2 linked regions of the Homo sapiens genome follow. The protein of the gene in region 1 purifies or fractionates together with the protein of each later gene. This does not show direct contact. Each region holds a gene or a part of one and is shown on either strand. Other genes may lie near its edges.

Evidence for each region.
Region 2: the proteins of MED13 (region 1) and RPAP2 purify together in Homo sapiens (affinity purification with mass spectrometry, with the first as the bait; one large-scale study listed by BioGRID). This does not show direct contact.

What each region holds. Positions count from the first base shown.
Region 1 is NC_000017.11:61,946,779-61,950,602, forward strand, and holds part of MED13 (mediator of RNA polymerase II transcription subunit 13), read right to left. Parts: intron 240-3,824; coding exon 139-239; intron 1-138. UniProt on the Homo sapiens protein: Component of the Mediator complex, a coactivator involved in the regulated transcription of nearly all RNA polymerase II-dependent genes.
Region 2 is NC_000001.11:92,396,492-92,400,315, reverse strand, and holds part of RPAP2 (putative RNA polymerase II subunit B1 CTD phosphatase RPAP2), read right to left. Parts: 3' UTR 1-3,824.

The sequences.
Region 1 (3,824 bases):
TAGAATAGCAGTGTTTATCTAGAGATCCACTGGTACACAACTGTAAATTCTTGCCAAAAATGAGAAAAATATATAAGAATCAACATTATATTCTTTTAAAGTTGCAGTGACAAACTGTTAATGGTAAAAGAGTTGTACCTGAGGACATCTGAAGTCTGATTTGAGTCAAGTGGGTGGGAGTGTTTACTGTGAAGCAGCTCGTCAGATTGCACTGAAGGCACGTGGAGGTGCAAAGAGGCCTAAGAAGGTAACAGGTAATCAATCAGTCAGCCAAACAGAAAATAATCTGCTATTTAGTTTTACCTTATTCTCCCAATATATCTTATAAAATGATGAAATACATTTTAGTCCTATGTTATGAATGAAAGCCACTATAAAAATGCTTGTTCTCTTTTAACTAATTCATTATAGAAATGTTTTTTTTTTTTTTTTTAAGTAGGGGCAGGTTCTTGTTCTGTTGACCAGGCTGGTCTTGAACTCCTGGCCTCAAACAATCCTCCTGCCTTGGCCTCCCAAAGTGCTGGGATTACACGCATGAGCCACTGTGCCTAGCCAGAAGTGATTTTTAAGTGCAAAACTTACTTTGAATCTATTTCCTTTTCTTTAGCTTTATTGTTTTTGAGACCATACAATAATCCTTAGAAAAAGAATTTCTAATTACCTGCTAAGTCTAATTTGCCTAGATGTGCAAAGTAAATGTTTAAGGAGGCACTAAATTGAGTAGTTAAACCTGAGTAGTCTGTCCTTAAGATATATGACACCCTTTATGACTACGCAGACATACCTACGTCTAGCACTGAAAAAAGTAACAGGAATAAGCATAAGCAAATAGTTTGGTTACAGCACAATAAACCTTAAACAAGCTATCTTCGGTTGAACTGAGAACACTCTAAGTAATACAGTGCACAGATGCCTGCTTTGCCCACTCAATTTCATAATAGAGGGTAGGTAAAAACTGGCACACTCATTTAGATATGGCAATGAATAGTGGGAGAAAGGAATAAACTACTCCACACTCCAATTAAATGAGTCATTTTTTTTATAAGTCAATATAGTATTAAAAAGCTATGATAAAACAATGGTGATGTTCACTGCAGTAACTCTTGGTAGATCTCATTCTGTACACTGTATAAGGTACTATTTTATATTTAGGTGTTCTCTCCTCTGCAACTGCAATACATATAGAAACTCATGTAGTACATTTAGGAATATAACCAAAAATAGCTATGTTTCAACTGTCTACAAACTCTTGATTTATGGAGTTATAAGCAAGTCTCACACTGCAAATCACTACAAATTTTTAAAATGTAATTAGTACCAGTACTCTATTCCTATGATAAAAAGGGATCTAGCTAACAACCCATTATATTTCCAAGCAAAGAGAAACAAACCAGGTGGCTTTACTGCCTACAGTATAAAACTAAAATAAGATATATGAAAAAAAAAAGTGAACAAAAAGTATGGTAAATTATGCCTTAGGTGATAGTTCATAACCAGAAGTCCTAATCTTGTTACAATGTATCTAAGGGTGAATGCCCGCTTTATACTATCCTTTCTGCAAATAAATACTGAGTAGGAAAAGCTCTAGATAGTCCCTTGGACTTTTTGTAAAGTTGTGTTTCCTGAACACATCCCCTGAAACACTAAGATAATAAACTATTAACAGGTGTTAAATAATCCTTTCCTTGTGTATTAATAAGTTTGGGAAATGCTAGGTAAACTATCTTATTTACCTCTGTTTTTCAGACTTTAGTGTGCATACATGTATTATGACTAGAAAAGAGGACAGATAGCATGTGTAGCACCCTCCCAAAGGACCAAAGAATCCTTTGTTTTGTGGAGACACCAAAGACTACTAGTATATAGAAAATCCCTGACCTCAGGTGATCTGCCTGCCTCAGCCTCCCAAAGTGCTGGGTTTACAGGTGTGAGCCACTGCACCCGGCAGCAAGTATTTAAATTAGCATGACTTGTGGATTAAAAACAGTCAACTTCCGGTGGTTTTACATAAGAATAAGTGAGTCACGGCCGGGCGCGGTGGCTCACGCCTGTAATCCCAGCACTTTGGGAGGCCGAGGCGGGCGGATCACGAGGTCAGGAGATCGAGACCATCCCGGCTAAAACGGTGAAACCCCATCTCTACTAAAAAAATACAAAAAATTAGCCGGGCGTAGTGGCGGGCGCCTGTAGTCCCAGCTACTTGGGAGGCTGAGGCAGGAGAATGGCGTGAACCCGGGAGGCGGAGCTTGCAGTGAGCCGAGATCCCGCCACTGCACTCCAGCCTGGGCGACAGAGCGAGACTCCGTCTCAAAAAAAAAAAAAGAATAAGTGAGTCACATCTAAATTTGTTATTCTGGAACAATATTAGCAGCAGTAATATAATTCTGTATAGGGCTTTTATATCTCATTTTGTGACTTATCTCCACTTCATGTTACATTGCTTACTAACAAATTCGGTTTTGTTTTTTTGAGAGAGGGTCTCCTGTCACCTAGCTGGAGTGCAGTGGCATGATCATGGCTCACTGCAGCCTCAACCTCTTGTGCTCATGCGATCCTCCCTCCTGCCCCAGCTTTTCATGTTATTAGGACTATAGGCACATGCCACCATGCCTAATATTAAAAACTTTTTAGAGAGACAAAATTTCACTATGTTGTCCAGGCTGATCACAAACTCCTGGCCTCAAGTGATCCTCCTGCCTCGACCACCCAAAGTGCTGGGATTATAGGGGTGAATCGCTGTGCCCAGCCTGAGTTTGTTGTAATAAATCACGATGAATCTGAGAGTCTCATTACTGTATTTAAAAACCACTCAGTTTTTTTTTAACACAGCAATCTACACACAGCTAGAAAAACTTTTTTAAGTAGTAAATGAAACTAAAAATCAAGTATTACAAAGATTATAAATCTTTTTTTTGTTTGTTTGTTTTGAGATGGAATCTCACTCTGTCACCCAGGCTGGAGTGCAGTGGCGCGATCTCGGCTCACTGCAACCTTTACCTGCCGGGTTCAAGTGATTCTCCTGCCTCAGTCTCCCAAATAGCTAATTTGCACGTGCCACCACGCCTGGCTAATTTTTTTGTAGTTTTAGTAGAAACGGGGTCTCACCATGTTGGCCAGACTGGTCTCAAACTGCTGACTTTGTGATCCACCTGCCTCAGCCTCCCAAAGTGCTGGGATTACAGGCATGAGCCACTGCGCCCAGCCCAAGATTATAAATCTTTTATTCCCCAAAATAATGCAGCATAACAGCAGTGCAGTATGATGTAATTCAAAGAATAACATAATAATCATTAAAAGACCCAGGTTTCAGTCTTGAGTCTATTACCAATTTATGACTTTAAACAGGTGAGTTTTTCTGAACTTAAATATGCTCACCTAGAAAATGAGAAGGTTAGACAGAGGTAATATAAAGTTTCTCTCAGCTCTAAATTTCCATATATGCAGTTGAAACAGATTGAGCATCTCCAATTTGAAAAAATCCAAAAATGGAAACAATTCTGGTCCCAAGCATTTCGAATAAGGGATACTCAATCTACACTAACAACAAGGGCCCTAGGAGTTTGACTTAGGAATAAAGTTCTAAAAATATAAATTTAAAAACTAGTTGTTTTTTTTTTTTTTGAGACAGAGTCTCAGATATTGTCACCCAGGCTGGAGTGAAGTGGTACGATCTCGGCTCACTGCAACCTCTGCCTCCCAGGTTCAAGCGATTCTCCTGCCTTAGCCTCCCGAGTAGCTGGGACTACAGGCGCCCGCCACCACACCTGGCTAATTCTTGTATTTTCAGTAGAGACGAGGTTTCGCCATGTTGGCCAGGCTGGTCT
Region 2 (3,824 bases), on another chromosome or scaffold:
GTATACTCTGACTCCAACCAGGATCCCCTCCGTAAACTCAGCTTTCCCTCTGGCGGTGACCCTTGTTCTGCAAAGGAAGCCAGGGTGAAGGGGAGGGAATCTCAGTTTAACTCACTCACAGAGGGTGGCTTCCCTAATCCCAAGTGGGTTTTGATTGAGTCCTGTTTTAGCTCCCTCTCTCTCTCCAGAGCTCATTGGGCTTTTTGTTGCTTAGTTAGATGAGCCATAGACAAGGAGTTTGAGACCTGGGTTTTAGCAACTGCTCTGCTAAAACTGGCTGATCTTGTGGAAGATAAACCTCATTGAGTCTTAGTTTGTGCTTTTTTTAAAGTGAGATATTTAGTTAGACTAGTGATTTTCAAACTCTTTTTCCTAGTAGCAAGACTCTTTGTACGAAGAAAATCTTATCTGGATGCCCAACCCAGACAAGAGAGGTTAAGAGTCATTCTGGTTGACTTTGAAGGTGGACTGTCTTTTCTCCCATTGTGGCCATAGTGAAAGTGACTCTGTCTAAAATTTAGTGTATTTTTTCCCCCCAAAGATGGATAATGTGTTAATGGGACGATGTGAGAAGGATAAGAGGTAAGGATGTGGGAGTGAGCAAGGTGACAGATCATAGGCTATGCTTTTTCATATAAAAAATGAAGATGGGTATTACAGAAGATATTACTAAATTGTTTCTCTGAAAAGTCTTATAACTTATGACATGAAACTACATTAAATTATATGTGTCAACTTCAAAACATTACAGTACCTGAAGTGGACACTGCTTTGGCTGTATGACCCCAGTAAGGTAGGGTCAGATGGGCATCTAGGGGACTGGCTTTTCCTGCTTATCTAAGTGATAGAAGTTTTCACTGTTAAAACTTCATTTTATTGCTCTTATTTTTGTCACAAGTCCTTATGAGCTTGGTTGGGTGAAGGGTCACCCAGAAAAGAACCAGCTTCCACTTTCTTTAATTATGCAAACTAGAGCTAGGTGACTGAGAACTTGCTTTTGGTCTGCAAGACATAGGGAGTTTTGCAAGCCCCAAGGGAGTCCAGAATTTCCTGAACATGTTGCAAGGTGGCTGGATGGCTTTCTTCTGAAGTCATGCAATATTGTCCTTCACTTTGGTTATGACTGCAGAGGTGCTGGGAAGCAAAATGAAAACTATCACCTTGAAGCAGGCTTTTCTTCATAGGCCCCAGAGGTGAGGCCAGCTCATTTAAAGGGAATGGCTTGTGCTGCTGCTTTCATCTAAAGGTATTTTGATCCAATTCCACCTCCCAGCTCCTTTATTGGTAATGTTTTCCAAAACACAGTATTTTTGCTGAGGGAAGGACAGGCAAAGGCCTGAACATTTAGAGAGTAGAAAACTGGCTGGGTGTGGACCTTTTACAAAAGTTCATATTTTGCTAGTTTAATTTGGAAAAGGACACATGAATTCTCACAGAAAATGAGCTTTATTGGGGAACAATACATTTCATGAAGGCATTTCTTTATCAGGAATCACACAGGCAGCCCCACGCAGTCACTGCCCCACACCTTATCCTTCAGCTTGTGCTGCACAGGAGAGGAGTGGCTGGGATTCCTGACTAGGGCTTTGATGAGAGTGCATGCACACTGGAGCATGCTTCTTGGCCTGGATGGCAAAGTCCCAGGAGCCAGTCCTAACTCAGACTCTGGCCTGCCTAGGTACATTTCAGATGAAAGTCACCCCTGCTCCTTGCCCCACCCTCAGTCCAACAAAAATGTGCTTCTAGAAATGCTTACTTTTCTTTTTCTACGAAGGGCTTATAATGTGAGGCTACTAAAGATTTTCAGATTTCAGAATAGTACCACTTACCTTGGGCTAGGTTAATTTTTTAGAGAATTGATCTTGTCCCCTAATGAGTAGGAAGATCAACTGGTTTTTGGACATGACTATAAGCAGAAGATGCTAAATAATACCTTAAAAAGACTCCACTGGCCAGGTGCGGTGGTTCACTCCTGTAAACATTTTTTAATTTTTGTGGGTACATAGTAGATGTATATATTTATGGGTTACATGAAATATTTTGGTACAGGCATGCAATGTGTAATAATCACATCAGGATAAATAGGGTTTCCATCATCTTAAGCACTTATCCTTTGTGTTACAAACAATCCAGTTATACTCTTCAGTTATTTTAAAATTTTATTTTTTGAGACAGTCTCACTCTATTGCCTAGGCTGGAGTGCAGTGCCACAATCATGGCTCACTGAAGCCTTGACCGCCTGGTCTCAGGTGATCTTCACCCTCCTGAGTAGCTGGGACTATAGGCGTGTGCCACCATGCCCGGCTAATTGTTTACTTTTTTGTAGAGATGGGGTCTCCCTATGTTGCCCAGGCTGGTCTCAAACTCCTGGGCTCAAGTCATCCTCCCACCTCAGTCTCCCAAAGTGCTGGGATTACAGGCGTGAGCCACCGTGCCCGGCCAGGGAGCTCTTTCAGATTGGCTCCTGTGTCTGTCTGACATGCTTCTATCCTTTTGTTTTTGAGCACTTGCTTAGTTTCTGGTACTACAAGATGCTCCAGGCTTATCTTGCATTTTTTTGGCTCTAGCCTTAGAACCTAGCTATTTTCTCAAGAAGCCTGGGTTCTTTTCTATTGGAAAATATTTAGAAACCAAAATCCAGCACAGTACTTTGAACTGAATTCTGCTTCAGTCCTCCCAAACTAACATAAACTTGGCAGAAGTGTATGGGAGGCAGATGCAGCACCCTCCCAAAGCAGCTGGCCCTGTGGTGACTTGGTGGCAGTTGTCCACTTGGATCCTTAGTTTCTATACTGAGCTACTGGCTCCTCACCTGAGGTCTCTAGACTTGTAGGGCATGTGAGATAACTGAAGAGATATCTCTGGGCACAGAGAGGGAAGAAGTGGAGATACAGCAGCTTCCCTCATTTTTTAATTTTTAATTTTTGAGACAGTGTCTTGCTCTGTCACCCAGGCTGGAGTGCAGTGGTGCAATCTTGGCTCCCTACAACCTCTGCCTCCTGGGCTCAAGTGATCCTCCCACCTCTGACTCCTGAGTAGCTGGGACTCCAGGCATACACCGCCATGCCTGGCTAATTTTTTTTATTTTTGGTGGAGACAGGGTTTTGCTATGTTGCCCAAGTTGGTCTCAAACTCCTGGACTCAAGCAATCAGCCCATCTTGGCTTCCCAAAGTGCTGGGATTACAGGTGTGAGCCCCTGTGCCTGGCTAGCTTCTTTTTCTCTTTACCCTAGGTCACTAGGTCAGAGAGAGAGAGGCCCTGTTATAATCTTTGACTTTTAATAGCTTTATTAAGGTATAATTTATACACATAAACTTTACCTGTTTTAAGTGCATAAATCAATTATTTTTAAAGTTTATAAAGTTGTGCAAAAATGGCTGGGTGTGGTGGCTCACGCCTGTAATCCCAGCGCTTTGGGAGGCCGAGGCAGGAGGATCACCTGAGGTCAGGAGTTCGAGACCAGCCTGACCAACCTGGAGAAAACCTGTCTCTACTAAAAATACAAAATTAGCCGGGCATGGTGGCACATGCCTGTAATCCCAGCTACTCAGGAAGCTGAGGCAGGAGAAATGCTTCAACCCAGGAGGCGGAGGTTGTGGTGAGCTGAGATCGCGCCATTGCACTCCAGCCTGGGCAACAAGAGTGAAACTCCATCTCACACACACACACACACACACACATAAAAGTTGTGCAAAAATTACAACTTAGTTTTGGAACATTTTTGTCACCCCCAAAAGATCCCTTGTGCCCATCTGCAGGCAATCCATGTTTTCACATCAGACCCATGCAACTGCTAATTTAGTATATGCCTTTTCTGGACTGT